Linked DNA regions of Homo sapiens. The protein of the gene in region 2 purifies or fractionates together with the protein of the main gene of each other region. This does not show direct contact. Each region holds a gene or a part of one and is shown on either strand. Other genes may lie near its edges.

Region 1 (3,653 bases), on a different chromosome or scaffold from region 2:
GTAGGTAGTTATCTATACGCCAGGAATAAGTAATAGGTAACACCTTCCTGGAATAGTAATTTTGCCAGTGAATAACTTTAAAAATCTATTTCATATTAAAATACAGATGTATTTACAGAATAGAATGCAAAAGTTCCATGAACATAACACTGGTCCGTGAACTTTTAAGATAAGACACAATATTTCAAAGAAATTTCATGTTCGTAGAGGAGCCTGTGGGTTATAACTCCAGTCTCTCCAGGACTACCTAGTTCCTATCATCTGTCCTTAGACTACTTTTTTTTCCCCTTTGTTGAGATAGGGTCTTGCTCTGTTCCCCAGGCTGGAGTGCAGTGGTGTGATCTCAGCTCACTGCAACCTCTGCCTCCCAGGTTCAAGTGTTTCTCGTGCCTCAGCCTCCCAAGTAGCTGGGATTACAGGAGTACACCACTACAACCAGCTAATTTTTTTTTTTTTTTTTGACACAGTCTTGCTCTGTTGCCCAGGCTGGAGTGCAGTGGCGTAATCTTGGCTCACTTCAAGCTCCACCTCCCAGGTTCAAGCGATTCTCCTGCCTCAGCCGCCTGAGTAGCTGGGACTACAGGCACATGCCACCATGCCTGGCTAATTTTTGTGTTTTTAGTAGAGATGGGGTTTCACCATGTTGGCCAGGCTGGTCTTGAACTCCTGACCTCAAGTGATCTGCCCACCTCAGCCTCTCAAAATGCTGGGATTACAGGCGTGAGCCACCATGCCCGGCCCTTAGACTGCATTTAGTAATGACGAAAAAGAACATGCAGGTCATCCTAAGGGACTTTCTTATGTAACATCATCTGAATACAAATAAATTATTTGTTACTTTTTCAAAATATTGGGTTAGACTAACTGAATTGTTAGCAGTATATTTAGTCTAAATTGTTAGTAGTATATCTTCTTGAAGCTATGAGTATTGATGAGGCCAGATAATCATAGAAAACTGTTTAGCTAAGAGAAGAAATCTTCAATTTTACAGGAAACTATCTGAAAATACCTTATGAAAATTTTACTAGATCTTAATCTTAGTTTAGAAATTCATTTTACTTAAAAAACTCTGGTGCATCTCCATTATTAACTAAATGGCTTTAACGTTTTTTATTTCTCCATCAGCCAGAGAATAACCAAAAAGCACTCTCTACCAAAGCCAAGAACAAAATCAATCCCTAACACTAAAAAAGTCACTAGCACATTATTTTGAAAAAACATATTAGGTTTTATTAACATTTAATACAGTACTAATATTCATAAACAATTACTATCCCAACACATTAAATGCATTTAATAATTATGGTACTGAAATATGTAAGTACATGTATTCCAGAAATTTCTCATTCAATAAACTACATTTCCATCAAATAGTTTAAATATGGAAACAATTTCACTATGTAAGAACTTAGAGCAATTATACATTTTACAGTTATATTTTGCTTTAGAATTTTTCAGCATGCTTCTCATTTACTACTATTTCATCTGATTCTCACAGCAACCTGGTAAGGTAGTTAGGTCTGATATTATTACTATCTAAGAGATAAAGGGGGGCCGGGCACATGGCTCAAGCCTGTAATCCCAGCACTTTGGGAGGCCGAGGTGGGTGGATCACAAGGTCAGGATATCGAGACCATCCTGGCTAACATGGTGAAACCCCGTCTCCACTAAAAATACAAAAAATTAGCCAGGCGTCAAGGAAAAAAAAAAAAAGAGAGAGCGATAAAGGGTCTAAAGATCAAAGAAGATCCAAGACTTTTTTTTTTTTTTGAGACAGAGTCTCGCTCTGTCACCCAGGCTGGAGTGCAGTGGCGTGATCTGGGCTCACTGCCAGCTCCGCCTCCCGGGTTCACGCCATTCTCCTGCCTCAGCCTCCCGAGTGGCTGGGACTACAGGCGCCCGCCACCACGCACGGCTAATTTTTTGTATTTTTAGTAGAGACGGGGTTTCACCGTGTTAGCCAGGATGGTCTTGATCTCCTGACCTCGTGATCCACCTGCTTCGGCCTCCCAAAGTGCTGGGATTACAGGCGTGAGCCACCACGCCCAGCTGAAGATCCAAGACTTAACCAGTCACTTAGCTAGTAAGAGACAGATATCATTCTTATTAAAGTATTTCAGGAAAAAAAAAAGAGAGAGAGAGAGAGACAAAACCCAGGTCCTCCTGCCTCAGTCTTTGTGATCTTTCAATCAGATGACATTTGAGGAGCATTTCATAGCTGAAGAGAACAAGGAAACCATCTAGTTCAACTACTTTATTTTACAGATCAACCCAGTGAAGTTAGATGGTTCCCAGGGTTTATACAGAATTGCTAAGAGAACTAAGCCTAGAATCCAGGTCTCTGGACTCTCTCCTTTGAACAATTACTCTCAAAAATAAAGACAAAACCATCTAGCATTTCCTTGCCTGATGTCAGTTTTTAAAGAAAGAAATCATCACTGATGAGAAAAAAAGAATTCATTTCCAAATAACAAAAGAGTAAAGACACTATTTTCAAGCTGACAAAAAACAGGATGCACAACATATAATTAGCAATCAGCCGTTCTAGTTCATTTCTTGCTCAGCAGCTGCTGGGTGACACTCTCTTTACCCAGTTAAATTCCAAATGCTTCTGATGATCTTGGGTATATCTCATGGAGAACAGTATAGGACAGGGATCTGCCTTGGTATATCACACAAGTTTATTTAAAAATTAGCCTGAATTAGTTGGAATGACCTGTCAGGTTCCTGTTTTCCCTACTAGCCATGTGACTGAGCATTGGCTCATAGTATTTTTAACTATACCAGTTTTAAAATTAGATTGTAGTATATAAAATTCATACTTCGGAGGCTAAGGCGGCACAAGAGTTACAAACTGTTTGGGCTTTAGAGTTGGAAAATATAAAATGAAATCCCACCTCTAGCACTTACAAGCCATGGGACTTTGGGCAAGTGATTTAATATCTGAAACCCTATTCCTTCATTTGTAAAATGAGATGGTAATACCTACCCCTAGGGTGAGTCAGATATGCACAACAATTACTAGCACAGTACCTGGCCCATAAAAGGTAGTTATTACCATCACAGAATACGCCTCTCCCATTCTGATTCAGCAGCAATATCTACACTAAGATGATAGAACTAACTAAAAAAAAAACAAAAAACAAACAAAAAACTTGTGCTTAAAAAGACTTTTAAAACAGTGTTTTCATAATGAAATATTTCAGGCATACATGTAAGTGTAAATTATATAATAAACAGTGATGCACCCACAACTGAGCTTTGAAAAAATAAATCAAGATAATTTATTTAAATCTGCTCTTAAAATGAGACTTGGGATCTTGAAAAACAAAGATTTGCAATGTTATTTTCTGTTCAGCTTTCTAAGAATATTCAACACAATATATTCAGCAGCCTTACTATACATTTCAAGTATTTTGTCAGGCAATTACTAAGTAGTGTTTCTTAATACTTTGTGAGCACTACCTGTATTCTCTCAAGCCAACCTTTTCCTAATTCCCTTTGTTAAGTGCTTATGAGTTAACATCCTTTCTCAGGTTATACACTCAACGCCTGTACAGCTATTCATTAAAAACTCTTCTTCCTTTCATTTGAAGTTATCCTAAAATTTACACTGATTTTCTTCACATATTGTTAGGAGGAGTGGGATGTGG
Region 2 (3,653 bases):
CCCGTCCCTCCGGAGACACAAGGCGAAGATAGAACCTTCATGAGCGTGAGCCTGGGCCACAATCCCATAGGTCTCTGTTGGCAAAGCCCCAGGTAGATCATGTTTTGGGGGTGCAGGGGAGTGAGAAACAGGGCCAGCTTGGCTGTCGCAATACAGTAAGAACTCCCAGCCATTGCATGCACTGACTACTATGTCTCATCCTCATACTGCCAACACATCTGTTATTCTCCCCATTTTACAAACAGGACAACTGAGACTCACAGAAATGAGGTAACTTCCTAAAGGCAAGGCAACTAATAGCAAAACTGGAATCTGAACCTGAGATCTGGCAAACACAAAGCTCCAGCCGTTTCTCCTTTGCTGTGCTGCCCACACGCTTCTAGACTAGCCCCCAAGAGAACTATCAACTCTCAAGGTAAAAAGGTGGGAAACCTGGCTGGGCGCCGTGGCTCACGCCTGTAATCCCAGCACTTTGGGAGGCCAAGGCGGGCGGATCACCTGAGGTCAGGAATTCGAGACCAGCCTGGCCAACATGGCAAAACCCCATCTCTACTAAAAATACAAAAATTAGCTGGGCGTGGTGGCGTGTGCCTGTACTTCCAGCTACTTGGGAGACTGAGGAAGGAGGATCACTTGAACCTGGAAGGCAGAGGTTGCAGTGAACCAAGATCGCGCCACTGCAATCCAGCCTGGGCAACAGAGTAAGACCTCATCTCAAAAAAAAAAAAAAAAAAGATGGGAATGGGAAACCCTCTCCTCTGTTCCCACAGAACCTCTGGAGTACTACACTTCCCAGATGCCCCTCCCAGCCACATACCTTTGGCGCCACCCCTGCCTGGGGTCTTGGAATCTGAAGGGCTCCGCCCCCAGGTGAGAATGTTCCCCTCTGAGTCTCCAGTGAGAATGTCTCCATCCGGAAGGAACACAAAGCAAGGGATAAACTTGGGTTTCTTGTATTTCTAGTGGGAGGGGAGAGCAGACAGTAGAGGTCAAAGGGAAGGGCAAAGATTAAAAGTCGCAGGGCAGGCCAGGTGCAGTGGCTCATGCCTGTAATCCCAGCACTTTGGGAGGCCAAGGCGGGCGGGTCACCTGAGGCCAGGAGTTTGTGACCAGCCTGGCCAATATGGTGAAATCCCGCACTGCACTCCAGCCTGGGTGATAGAGCAAGGCACTGTCTCAAAAACAAAAAAAACAAAAAAAAAACGGGCATGATGGCCAACATGATGAAACCGTATCTCTATTAAAAATACAAAAATCAGCCGGCGCGCATCTGTAATCCCAGCTACTCCGGGAGGCTGAGGCAGGAGAATTGCTCGAACCCAGGAGGCAGACGTTGCAGTGAGCCGAGATCTTGCCATTGCACTCTGGCCTGGGTGACAAGAGCAAGACTCCGTCTCAAAAGAAAAAAAAAAAAAGGTCACAGGGGCAGGTGGGGGTTAGGGAACCTCAGGGTCCATAGTACTCAGCCCAGTGCTTCCTCTTCCACTCTGCCCTCCCCATCACCTTCCACTTATCCATGCCTCACCCCAAAGACACCCTGTTTCCGGGTAAGGGTCCCATTCCCAGGAACCCCTACTCCACCACTCCAATTCCAGAAGTGGACGTGAGATTTCCCACTGGTGACGATGCAGCTGCTGTCACGAGGGTTGAAGCCAACGGCCAGGACTGAGTCATTTGTACTCTGAAGGGAAGACACTAGATTCAGCCACCCCAAGCCCTGGGTACCTTCATTCTACTTGACTCTCCTCAATTTGCATCATGACAGCTGGCTGGCAGAGGTCCAGAAACCCCAGGACAACCCTTCTTTCAAAACCCTGGTCCCCTAAGAGCACTATTTCCTGTCAATCATAATTAATCACCCTAATACCTAACACATTATGCCTCATGAGGTCAGAACCCATGTCACAAATGAAGAAACTAAGGGTCAGAGAAGCTAGGAGATTTGCCCCATGTGACCCAGCCAAAAAGGAAGGAAATGTATGGGTGAGTCTGGAGCTCCCTGCACTCCACCACTCCCACCCCCAACCTCAGAGCCCCTCCAAGCCACATGGACTCCTCACCTTGATCTCAGCCAGCTTCATTCCCCGGCTGCAGTCCCACACCGACAGCATGTGCTCATTGGAATCATCCACCACACAAAGAAAGGCACCCTGATCCTGAAGAAGGGTGACACATAGGAGGTGCAGAGTGAACCCTGGAGGTCCAGGGGTTCATGGTCATTAGGTTAAGAGGTACCATCACAGATGGAGAGGGCAGAAAAAGTTGACACACATGGCCCTTTCTCAAGAGAACCAGCTGGGTGGGGTTCAGGAAGGCCAGAACTTCCAAGGCTTCCTGGTGACATGCAAGAGTGGGGTTCCTAGGCAAGAATGGGGGTCTAGAGGCTTCAGGGCCAGCTCACCGCAGCTGAAAAGGCCAGGGCCCCAACACCCCGCTCGAAGGCCCCCAGTCCAATCTCCTGCAGTTTCAACAGCGTCTCTGAGTCCCAGATGTGAACCACAGGCTGCAGGGGCTGGTGGAGGAAGAGTCACAAGTGTGAAGCAAAATTGGAGTGCAATTCCAGCATGTCTGCCTGCTCCCTGACTTTGGCCTTACCTTTCCATCCTTATCCACTCCAGCTGTCTGTCCCGAGGCTACCCGAACACCATCAGGGTGAACAGCAAGGCTAAGGCAGGGGGAAGACACTCTAGGGAAAGGGTCTCTCAAGACCATCCAAGACACCTTCTCCAAGCTTGCAGAGCAGCAAGGCAACTCTTTTCTCCTGCTTCTCCATCCCCCCAGACCCTCTTCCTGCCAAGCCCACCAGCCCCGGACTCCTCACCATCGAACGCAGTCTGTGTGCCCCCGGTAATGTCTCTGGCCGCCACCTCCAGGACCCCCTGGGCCTCCTCCAGGCCGGTACAGCACCACCACACAGGCGATAAAGTAGACCACCTCCCCAGAGCGCAACACAAACAGATTAGAGCGGGAGTCACGACCCCTGTACCCATAACTGGGGTGGAGATCACGGTCAAGGAAAGGGTTAGATCAAGGGCAGGAGGAGGAAGAGGGGAGAAAGACAGAGCTTCTGGCTGGCAGGGCCTAGAGCAGAATGATGGTAGGAGAGGATCTAGAAGGCTCCTTGTCCCCACAGACCCAGGAGGAAACTGTAAAGGTAAGAGGGGTCCCAAGGTGAGAAAGGTGGTTCTCATGGGACTGGAAGGGGCAGGATACACCCAGTCAAGGCTGAGGGTCTCTGGCGGTGGGCCACTCGGCAGCTCCTCAAGGCTGCGGATGCCAGACGGGATGTACATGGTAATGGGGCGCCCTCGAAGGAACATCTTCACTGAGATGCCTTCTACAGAGAAAAGGGGTGGTGTCAACTACCCCCTTCCAGGAAAGACAGAGCAGAACCCTACCCACCACACCTACCCAAAATAGCTCCTGGGGCTACAGCCCAAATCCTAACCCTGCCATCCAAGTTTTCCTCTCTGTCCCTCTTTACATACCCAAATTGTAATTGCTCCTCCGAGATCCAGGGCCCCCAGGGCTGGAGAGGGGGTCTTTTCCCCCACGGCTGTTGGGAAGAGAGAAAGCACAGGGATTGGGGTCAGGTCCCAAGACCTAAGCGGGGAGGGGCAGGACACAAGAAAAGAGGTCACTGCAGAAACCAC

Evidence for each region.
Region 1: the proteins of EML3 (region 2) and KLHL12 purify together in Homo sapiens (co-immunoprecipitation; one large-scale study listed by IntAct). This does not show direct contact.

Annotation. Positions count from the first base shown.
Region 1 is NC_000001.11:202,920,735-202,924,387, forward strand, and holds part of KLHL12 (kelch-like protein 12), read right to left. Parts: intron 1-3,653. UniProt on the Homo sapiens protein: Substrate-specific adapter of a BCR (BTB-CUL3-RBX1) E3 ubiquitin ligase complex that acts as a negative regulator of Wnt signaling pathway and ER-Golgi transport.
Region 2 is NC_000011.10:62,606,141-62,609,793, forward strand, and holds part of EML3 (echinoderm microtubule-associated protein-like 3), read right to left. Parts: intron 3,557-3,653; coding exon 3,489-3,556; intron 3,338-3,488; coding exon 3,214-3,337; intron 2,993-3,213; coding exon 2,822-2,992; intron 2,666-2,821; coding exon 2,596-2,665; intron 2,513-2,595; coding exon 2,402-2,512; intron 2,157-2,401; coding exon 2,061-2,156; intron 1,682-2,060; coding exon 1,526-1,681; intron 960-1,525; coding exon 818-959; intron 75-817; coding exon 1-74. UniProt on the Homo sapiens protein: Regulates mitotic spindle assembly, microtubule (MT)-kinetochore attachment and chromosome separation via recruitment of HAUS augmin-like complex and TUBG1 to the existing MTs and promoting MT-based MT nucleation.